2 separate regions of the Homo sapiens genome follow, and region 1 is linked to region 2. Evidence: fine-mapped QTL for protein levels in blood plasma. A gene starts in region 2. The other region holds a variant in brackets. All regions are shown on one strand. Distances are from middle to middle.

What was found. PIP is the posterior inclusion probability: the model's chance that the variant is causal. The UK Biobank Pharma Proteomics Project read protein levels with antibody pairs (Olink). The fine-mapping took linkage between variants from a reference panel, not from the people measured, so its PIPs are less certain.
Region 1: its variant is fine-mapped to the plasma level of the NPTX1 protein (UK Biobank, PIP above 0.99).

What each region holds. Positions count from the first base shown.
Region 1 is chr17:80,554,762-80,560,123 of GRCh38, forward strand. The region is part of intron 1 of RPTOR (regulatory associated protein of MTOR complex 1); the gene reads left to right. Among named protein-coding and RNA genes, the nearest start is that of RPTOR, 13 kb to the left of the region's middle. RefSeq lists a silencer at 2,315-2,515. The variant C/T (reference allele first, on the strand shown) is at 3,119.
Region 2 is chr17:80,474,128-80,479,489 of GRCh38, forward strand. It overlaps NPTX1 (neuronal pentraxin 1), which reads right to left and starts at 2,480. Exons shown (of 5, transcript NM_002522.4): 1 at 1,876-2,480; 2 at 1,384-1,591. The coding sequence starts at 2,319. RefSeq lists an enhancer at 934-1,467.

The DNA.
Region 1 (5,362 bases), 81 kb after region 2:
ACAAAACAAACAACAACAACAACAAAAAAAATGAGAATCCAGTTGTCTTCTATGAAGCTGGATATTAAAGAGATTTGCAAAAATCTAAAAAAAGCCACCTGAGACAAGTGACAAGATAACTGACAATTTTTGAAAATATAGTTATTTGTAGAAATGTTATTTATTTGAATATATAATAAGTTTGATTTTTAAGTGAATTCATAAATATATCAATTATGTTTTTCTGTTTTAACCTTCAATACGGAAAATGTTGATAAATGAAACTCATAAAAAAGCTCTTTGAGGGTCTTCAGGAACCTTTAAGACCGTAAAGGGGCCCTGCTGCCAGATGTTTGAGAGTTATTAGTGTAGTTAGAAGAAAGTGGGCCTCATCCTTAGGAAGAAGGGCTTGAGGATATCAGGTGGCTGGTCAGAAATGTCAGGCAGGGCCTTGAAGTGACATTAGATAAGAAACATAAAGGCCCTAATCTGTTGCCCTCTTTCCATTCGCTCTGCCTAAAGAACTGTTGAGGTCTCTGGACTTGGAGCTGGGAGGATGTTTGTGAAGAGCCTGTGTGATTGTGAGGGCAGTGGCCTTACATGTGGCCACCTAGCCCTCCATCAGGTCCTTCTATTGCTCCAGATTTCTAGTGTGTGTCCGGAGGGAGATGCACCACCGCCCACCCAGTAGCTCTTGTGCTGGGAGTGGAGGAACACCCAGTCTGTCTGGAGGAATGTCCACTCTGTCTGGCAAGGAGGAGGTGGCCAGAGGTTCAGCCAAGGTGGACAGCTCACGGGAAGTGTCCTGTCTCTCCAGGGCGCTGCTGCCTAGACAGACTGACAGACACGGTAGCACCAAATTACAATACGCAAGTATAGGTATCAATCATAGTAATTACAGGTGAGAATGACATTATTACGGGGAGCATCTTGATTTAATATTAAATAAGTAAATCATTTGCATTGAACTGCATTTATGAAAGAAATCATCCACATTGACCAGCATTAAACTCCCAGCAGCCAGTGACTTCATGTAGTTGGTGATGGGGAGCTGTCCCAGGATTCCAGCTGGGGAGTTGTTGTGCATAAATTTGTGTTTTGAAATACCTTATTGGCTATGGATGGAGTGGGGTGATTGGAGAGGGGCGAGACTGGAGGTGGGGGCACCAAGTGGAGAGGAGTTGTGCTAATCCAGGTGAGAAGCCCTGGGGGCTGGGCGTGGTGGCTCACATTTGTAATTCCAGCACTTCGGGAGGCTGAGCTGGGAGGATCTAAAAAGTTTTTTGTTTTTTTTTTCTTAAATCTAGGTAGATACTTTGTGGTTCCCGAGACTCACATGAGACACTCACATCAGCGCTTGTGTGATTGTAAGGGCAGTGGCCTTACATGTGGCCACACAGCCACCGTCAGGGCCTCCTATTTCTCCAGAATTCTGTCTCACCTCTCCAATCCCTCTACTCCATCCACAGACAATAAGATCTTTCTAAACACAAATTTATACACAACAATTCCCTAGCTGGGCTCCTGGGCAGCTCCCCATCACCAACTACATGCTGAGCCCAGGAATTTGAGACCAACCTAAGCAACAAAGTGAGGCCCTGTCTCTACAAAAAGTAAAAAATAAGCCGGACATGGTGGTGCGCACCTGTGGTCCCAGCAAATTAGGAGGCTGAGGTGGGAGGATAGCTTGAGCCTGGGAGGTTGAGGCTGCAGTAGTAAGCTATGATTGTGCTGGTGCACTCCAGCCTGAGTAATAGAGTGACACCCTGCTTCAATAAAAACAGCAAGAAAAGAAACCTTGGGAGCCACAAAAGAGGCGGCTGCAGTAGGAATGGACGATAGAGCATGGATCCTACTGATTTGAAGAAGGTAGAAATAGAATGTGAAGTGGATGGGTTCCAGTGGGTGGAGTTTGTGGGTGTAGTGTGGACTGGCTGGCTGGTACAGTTCCGCTCTTTTTATTTGCTCTTGAAATGGATATACTTTTCATTAGTGAGTCTCATGTGAGTTTCAGGAGTCACAAAGAGACCATCTACCCAGATTAAAAAAAAAAAAAAACTTAAAACATGCTGGCCAGGCACGGTGGCTCACGCCTGTAATCCCAGCACTTTGGGAGGTCGAGGCGGGTGGGTCACCTGAGGTCAGGAGTTCGAGACCAGCCTGCCCAACATGGCGAAACCCCGTCTCTACTAAAAATAACGAAAAATGAGCCGGGCATGGTGGCGGGTGCCTGTAATCTCAGCTACTTGGGAGGCTGAGGCAGGAGAATCGCTTGAACTCAGGAGGTGGAGGTTGCAGTGAGCCAAGATCTTGCCACTGCACTTCAGCCTGGGTGACAGAGTGAAACTCTGTCTCATTGTTCCATTCTGAAGAGCTGTGGAAGACTCTTGAGATGGATAAGAACATGTCCTCATTATCACCCTGTGGAGTTCTAGAGCTAGAGTTTTAACAAGATAGCATGTGGATTACACATAGGAGGTGTCCTCCAGTTTCTGACTCTATCCTCCTCTTATTCAAATGACTTTAAAAAGGAATTTTGAAGGCTAAGGTGGGAGGATCACTTGAGGAAAGGAGTTCAAGACCAGCCTGGTCAACATGGTGAAACACCCATCTCTACCAAAAATTTAAAAATTAGGCGTGGTCGTGGATGCCTGTTATCCCAGCTACTTGGGAGGCTGAGGTATGAGAATCGCTTGAACCCGGGAGGTGGAGGTTTCAGTGAGCCAAGATCATGCCACTGCATTCCAGCCTGGGTGACAGAACGAGACTTTGTCTCAAAATAAATCAATAACTCAATAAATCAATAAATACAAAAATAAGGAGGTATTTTGGTCATCTACAATACTTGTTTCAGGAGAGCTGAAGTTTGATACCTTTTTCTAAGTCTAAATATATGGAAAATGGCCAGGCACAGTGGCTCACGCCTGTAATCCTAGCACTTTGGGAGGCTAAGGAGGGCAGATCACTTGAGGTCAGGAGTTTGAGACCAGCCTGGCCAACATGGTGAAACCCTGTTTTCTACTAAAAATCCAAAAATCAGCCGGGCATGGTGGCAGATGCCTGTAATCCCAGCTACTCGGGAGGCTGAGGCAGGAGAATCACTTGAACCCAGGAGGCAGAGGTTGCAGTGAGCCGAGAT[C/T]GTGCCACTGCACTCCAGCCTGGGCGACAGAGCGAGACTCCGTCTCAAAAAATAATAATAAATAAATACATAAATATATGGAAAATGCCATTCCAGTAAATATTTGGCATTGCAAATCAATGCTTTAACTGTGTTCTAGGCTGGGCACAGTGGCTGATGCCTGTCATCCCAGCACTTTGGGAGGCTGAGGCAGGTGGATCATTTGAGCTCAGGAGTTTGAGACCAGACTGGGCAATGTGGTGAAACTCTGTCTCTACAAAAAATACAAAAAATTAGCCGGGCATGGTGGCATGTGCCTGTGGTCCCAGCTACTCGGATGGCTGAGTCAAGGGGATGGTTTGAGTCAGGGAGGTCAAGGCTGCAGTGAGCTATGATGGTGTCACTGCCCTCCAGACTGGGTGACAGAGCTAGACCCTGTCTCAAAAAAACCCCTGAAACCCTTAAACTTGTCACATATTGGTGGGTGTGACTGCAGAGAATTGTCATGCCTTCAGAGGCCGAACAGGAAACAGCTGAAGAGGAGACAGTCGCCGAGAACAAGTTTGAATTTTACCCAGCTGTCGGTATATTTTTCAGGTGCGTTTATTGTTCTTGACTAGTACTTTTTGTATTTTAAAATGTTGATGTAATTTCAAACTGACGGAAAACCTGTAAGAATAGTATCATGAGCTTCCCTATAGCCTTTGCCCAGGTTTGCAGATTGTTTACATCTCGCCTTGTTTACTGTCACCCTCCATTTACATATTCAGACTGAGCTGGAGATGCTGTCCCCCTTCTACTCCTAAACACCGTGTCTGTCTCCTTAGAGGAGGCCATTTTCTTACGTAAGCACAGTGCAGTTGTGAGAGTCAGGACCTGTATCATGGATATGTGCTCCCGGCCCTCTGTAGTTCAGAAGGTCAGGTGTTGCTGCCTGCCCAGCAATGCCCTCATTATGCCCCGCCCGTCACCCAGGATCACACGTTGCATTTGGTGGTCGTGTCTGTGTAGCCTACCTTAATCTAAAGAAGTCTCTCAGTCTGTTTTAGACTTTCTTGACCTTGATTTTTTTAACTGTGAATTTACCATCTCAACCATCTTTCAGCACACAGTTTAGTGGCAGCAAGCACACCCACATGCTTGTGCAGCCACCACCAGCATCCACCACCAGCAGCCATCTCCAGCAGCTTTCCATCTTCCCAGACTGAAACTGTCTCCATTAAACACCAACTCCCCATTCCCCTTCCCCAGCCCTTGGTAACCGCTCTTCTGCTTTCTGTCTCTGAATGTTTTGGCCTTGCATGTAGTAGAATGTCCTGAATTTGAGCTGCCTAGTCTTTCCTCATATTCACACTGAGATGGGGCATTTTGGGTAATGATGCACCTTTGTCAGTGAATCCCATCAGGAGCACACGACGGTGCTTTGTCCCAGTACTGTCATGCTCATTTGATCCATTACCTTCAAGCCGTTTCTTGCTGAGTGGTCGCCTCCTGACTGATGCTGCCCTTTTGCCATACCTGTTTGGGAGCACGTCCTGACTTTCCAGCACAACCAGAGGGCCCAAGCTCACTCTGTGCCCTCCCTGCCCCAGTCCTGGAATTAGCCTTTTCTCCAAGGAGCCTGGTTCCTGTTAGTGGCGAATGGCATTGAGAAGCCACGAACGTGTGCATTTAGAGCTGGGCTGTGTGCTTTGCCCTTGGTGTGGCATGCGTCTCCCGTTGGTTGGCCCTCTGAGCAGGAGAGAGAGGATGGCGCTCTGTCTTGTTTACCTCTGTTTCTCTGTGTATGCTGGAACCATGGATGTGTAGAGAGAGCTCCAGTCCAGCTCCTCACCATGATATGTTCAGCCCTTCCCACTTTGCCTGCTACCACTCCCTACCCAGCCATGGGAAACCAGCTCCATTGTCCTCATTTAATCATGGGCTCAAAGCTGGAATGCACAGAAGGGAGCCTCGGAATGGCTAACGCTGGCCACTTGGGAAAGCAAATGCTGCAAGAGGTTGACTTCCTTGTTTTCTGAGGTAAACGTTACATATGGTGAAATGCACAGACCCCAGCTATCTGAACAATTGGCTCATGCTGTCTAGAAATGTCAGCATTAGTCAGTGTTTTGTGGGAAATCACTGTTGTTTTACATAGATGGCACTGCACGTAGGGTGCATGGGGTGAAGGGGACGGAAGACGTGGTCATGGCCCTGTAGGAATTTACATCTTATAAGAGAAAAACAACATCCTTACCCACAGCTGAGTGAAAAGCACAGTGC
Region 2 (5,362 bases):
CCCAAGGTGACTGCTCTAGGATGCCGCCACACTCTCAGGTGAGTAAGTGTCCTCACAGCTCAGGTTCCAGGCCTGGTGGCCTCCCTTTCCACAAGGCCCACCTTCTCCCTCCCCACCGGCCACTTCTCCCGTAAGCGCCAACCCCCATAGCCCATCTATATACTGTGGCACCCTGGGTATGGTGTGACTGACTCCAGGCAAAACATTCCTGGCCAGCAATGGGCACAGTAGCAGGCCCAGAGCCCAGGAACACACACCCCTTGGTCAATCCCTGGGTGAGCAGCCGTGGTCCTGCCAGGAAGCCCAGAAAGAAACCAGTTCCCCAGGCCAAAAATTATTTCTAGAAGACATCCTGCCCGGTCAGCAACCACCCCCTCCTCTAAACCAACTGGCAGGGAGCAGAGCAGGGCAGGCCCCCTCAGTGCAGCACCCCAGCGGCTACCCCAACCCATTGAGGCCTGCAGTGGGGGATAGGGAGGGGCCCAGCCCCTGGCCTTTCTCCGGGTGTTTTTCATTCCCCAATCTCCGCTCCTTCCCTCTCCCTCCCTCCTGAGGTCCTTCCTTCTGATCTGTTTTTCAGTTACATAACAAGCCTTAAGATGGCACTGTTTAAATCTGTCCGGCACATTTTGCGGTCTGAGCAGGGTCACGTGGCCTTGCTCCGCACCGGGCACCCCCCCCCCTCCCCTTTTACAACCTTGTTTGATTTCTGCGACTTCAAGACAGAGCCTCCAGCGCTCATCCAGGCGCCCTGGGTGATAGACTGGCTGGCCTGAGTTGGTGACTGAGAAACCTCAGGGATTTGAAAGATGCCAGGACTTGGGTCACTCAGAAAAGAAAACCTCAGGGTAGGGGTTCAGGACAGAAGTGGGGAGGAGCTGGAGATCCTGAGAGGACACCGGGGGCATGGCAGCCGGGAAGAAACCTGCTTAACAGCCTCAGCGGCCCGGGGAACGAGAGCGCCCAGCCCCAGCCTGCACCCAGCTGTACGCTGAGGCTGGGGACCAGGGAGAGACAGGCTTTCTTAAGCAGGGAGGGTTTGAGCCAGCGACAGCCACTGTGCAAAGTTACTGAGGATTAAACAAATCAGACTTGAAAAATCCAGCGAGTGTGTGAGTGTGTCTGGATGGGGGAGGGGGCACTATGCAATCCCCTTTCCCAGAGACAGCCCCAGCCCAAGGCACCCAGCCCTGATAGAAACACCGACTAGAAGCCCAGAACCTGGGAAGGGGTGCGGGGAATGAGAAAGCGGTGCAGGGGTTGGGGGTAGCGGAGCGGCTTGAGGCTTGCACAGTGCAGAGCTGGGCTGTTAGGGATCGGGACCGAGGCAGGGTCGGGCAAGCAGGTGCAGGCAGGCAGCACGGCTCCCCCTGGCCCCAGTACCTTTCTCGAGCTCGCTGATCCGCTGGTGCAGGGAGGTCAGGGCGGTCTCGATCTTGACCCTCTCCTCGGTGTCGTTCCTGGGGCCCCCCTTGCCCTCCTCCAGGGTGTTCACCCGGGACAGCACCTGCCTCTCCAGCTCATCGATCTTGCTCTGCAGCAGATCCTTGAGGCTGTTGGTCTGGCTGGAGGAATTGAGGCGGCTGTACTGCTGCGGGGTGCAAGGGCGGGGGAAACCACACCGTTAGGCGAGGCGCGGGGACCGTGCTGGAAGGCCCGCGGCGCGGTCCCCTCTGGGCGACTGCGGGGGCGGCCTGGCAGGGAGCTGGGGCGAGTGGCCGCCGCGGGGCCTCGCAGGCGCGGGGAGGCACCGGCCGGGCACCCGCGCGGCTGAGGCGAGGGCGGGGGATGCCTGGCCGGGTAGGGAACGGGGTGGGGGAGGGCAGAGGGGCGAGCGAGCCGGAGGGGGAACCGGAGCCGAGGGCGCGCGCGGACCTCGAGGTTCTCCAGGCGGGTTTTGAGCGATTGCAAAGTTTGCCCGAGTTGGCTGAGCGTCTCGGCGGCCGGTGTCCGGGACAGGTCGCCCATGGTGTTCTTGCCCGAGCCGGGCTGCTTGCGGCCGCCGCCCGCCCGGGCCTCGCCGGCTCCGGGGTCCAGCGTGCTCTGGCTCTCGCAGCGGCCCAGCTTGGCGGTCAGCTCGCGGATGGTCTCCTTCTGGCTCAGGATGGTCTCCTTCTGCTGCAGCACCGTCTCGCGGAGCTGCAGCACGCTGCTCCGGAGCTCCTCGGCGCCGCCGGCGGCCACGGACGCGGCGCACATGTCGGCGTCCACGGGCACCGAGGTGCAGATGAAGCGCGTCGGCCCGAAATCCTGGGCCCCGGCGCCCAGGAGGCAGAGGGCGAGCAGCGCACAGGTGCGCGCGGCGCGGCCGGCCGGCATGGCTGCGGGCACCGGGCGCTCCGGGCCCGGCTCGGCTCGGCTGGGGCTCGGCTCCGGCTGGGACCCGGCTCGGGCTGTGGCTCCGCGAGCGGCCCGCGCTCTGGGCGCCGCGCTCTTCGGCCGCGCGGTCCACACCGCCGCGCTATCAGGCCCCCACTGCCGCCTGCGCTGCGGAGCCCGCGCCTTTTATGCCGCCGCGGGAGGGGCCTCGAGCCGCCGACGTCAGCGGGGGAGGAATCCCGCTTTAATTGTCCGCGGCCCGGGCCCGCGGCGCGGCGGGGGTCTCACGAGCGCGCCACCGGGGCTGCCTCCGCTCGCGTCCCCCCCGCCCTTCTGGGAGCTGCCGCGGCCCCCTCCTCCCCCGCCCCCGCCTGGGCCGGCGCTGCTGCCCCGAAGGCTCCGAGAGCTCAGGGGGAAGGAAGTCGGGCTCCGGCCCCGGACTCGAGGATGGACCACCTGCGTGGTGTCCCCGAACCTCCGACGGGGCTCCAGGCGGGCGGGAAACCACCGCGTCCGGGAGATAGAATTCGGTTCGGCCCTCCTGGCTGCACTGAACACCCTTGGGCCGGGGTCGTTTGGAGCCGGGCTGGGTGCCCAAGGACCCAGGTCGTCAACACCCGAGTGCCCGGTGGTCAACGGCTCGGAGTGGGGCCTCGCGGCGCCACTAAGTCCAGAGCGGGGGTCACCGGGCCGCCCCGCGTTTCTTAGATGTCCGTGTGCTATTGAGAAGCCGCCGGGCAGCCTGGGTACAGGGACTTCCCACGGGTCGGGGCCCCCGGCGCCTCCCCTCCCCCAGCTCCCGGGCTCTGTGGACCCGGCCCCGTCCCCGGGGGACTGTCAGTCCCCACCCCGTGCGGGCGGGGCGCTGGGGACTTCTCGGAGGCAGACCTAGCTGATCGAGCCTTTCCTGTCCGCGGCGCCGGCCCGATCGCGGGCAGGCGGCGTCGCCGGGGCTGGACGTTCGCAGCGGCGCTTCGGAAGGGGGCCCCGCGGGAGCAGCCGCCCGCGTCTCCAGCAGCTTCCCCTTGCCAGGCGCCGCGCGCGCCCGGTATCCCCGGGTGTCCACCTGTGCGTGGGGGGCTGTTTCCCGTCTGTCCAGCCGCGCCCACTTCTCAGGCCCAAAGGCCAGCAGGAAGGGTCCCGGAGGTGGCTGGGGGCGTCCACCTGAGAAGCTCCGCTCTCGCTCAGACACCCCACCCGGCACCCGCGCACTCGCGCCTTCATCTGGACCGCGGGGCTCGGCTCCCGAGATCGCGGTCCGGGTTCCGGCGCCGGGCTGGGGGCTCAGGACCAGGGCTGGCGCAGCCGCCCCGCCCCGCCCCGCCCCGGGGCTATCAGAGCGGTCAAAGCCTCGGAAATCCCTCCGTCCACGCTCCCGTGGTACAGAGAAGGAAACTGAGGCTCCGAGACTGCGGGGCCGGGCTACAGCCGTGGCCCCCCGACCCCTCCCCGCCGCCCCCGGCTTCTCTGGTCTCTGCGTTCTGCAGCCTTTCCCTGCGCGCAGCCGGGGGCTGGGGGTCCCCAGCCAGCAGGGACCCACGGGCAGTCCCGGGTGCCGGGATCGGGCGTCCGCCCCTCGGGCGGGAGCAGAGGCCGGCTCGATGGAGACCTTTTTGAGAAATGGCGGCCTCTACCCGCCCCCCAGCCCCCGAGCGCCCGCCGTCTGCGTTCAGCATCTCAGCTTTTAAGCCTCCCTGAGCCGGGGCTGCGTTCTCGTTGTCTCCTTCGGCCGCCGCTTCCTGGCGCCAGAGGGACCCCGCGGCCCGCACGGGCCTGTCCTCGGCTCCGCTCGGAGGGTGTGCGGGTTCCCGCTCCGCTGGCCCCGCTTGCCCACCACGGCGCGCCCAAACCCACGCGGCCCGCGGCCCCTTGCGTGCTCTGCCGACCCCGGGCCGCAGGAGGGGTTAGCCTCGCCGGTCCCCACGCGGGGTCTGCGCCGGCAGCGCCACGGGCTGGAACGCGCCTCGGGAGAAATTACCCGCGCGGGGTCGCGGCGTCTTCTGCCCCAACTCCCGTAGGGAGCCGCTAGGCGGGTGCCCTCCTGGCCCCAGCGCTTTGGCCTCGCCGCCCTCCCGCACGCGTCCAGTGGGGAGGCCGCGCCCGTCAGGCCTGGAGCCGGACCGTGCCCAGCCGAGAGCGCGCGGGCGCGGGAGAGGAGCCCTGCCCTGCCCAGGGCAGGCTGTTTAGACGGGGCGGGAACCCTTAGCCTGGCCCCGCGTCTCTATCCCCAGCAGCCGTGGAGCCTTCCTAGCCGCCCAAGGCCAGGGACCCTGCCTGGCTTTTCCTCCAGGGCAGCAGATCTCAGCGGCCTGGCACCTCGGCACAGAGGAGCGTGTCCCCCTTCCGCAGAGGAAGGGAGTGGACGGCGTCAGAAAGGGAGGGGAGCCTGGGGCGGTGTCTGGGGCTAGCGGGACCTCTGGGCACTGTGGGGCCCCAGGAGAGGAGACCCTCGGGTCCAGCCTGCAACTGTTGTGCAGGAGGCGCTGGGCGGGACACCTGCAGGCGCTGCACACACACGCGAGGGCCACCATGCCGCGTTTCTCCTTCACAAGACCCTGGGCAAGCGGAGGGTCGTATTTAGGATTCCCTCGGCCTCCCCAGTGTTCTGAAAGTATCTGAGAGGGAGGGAGCAGGAAAACGAAGGGCCGCCCTGCCCAAACTCATCGGGGTGTCTGGTTACTAGGTCGGAAGAGGGGGGATGGTGTTGTGAACAGCCAGTGATCCCGGCCCTGCCTGAGTCCCACACCCCAGATGCAGCTGGGGTGAGGGAGGCGATCCCGTAATATTCCCAGCCGCGTACATTTGTGGCTGCCTGTGACACGACCTCACTCATTGGGAAACCATGCACACTAGCACACTGTTATTTTATTTTTGAGACAGGGTCTTGCTCTGTTGCCTAGGCTGGAGTGCGGTGGCGCAATCACAGCTAACTGCAGCCTCGACCTCTTGGGCTCAAGCGATGCTTCCTGCACCACCACACTTCAGCTAATTTTTTTTGTTTTTTTCGTAGAGATGGTTGAACTCCTCTTGCCTTGGTCTTGGG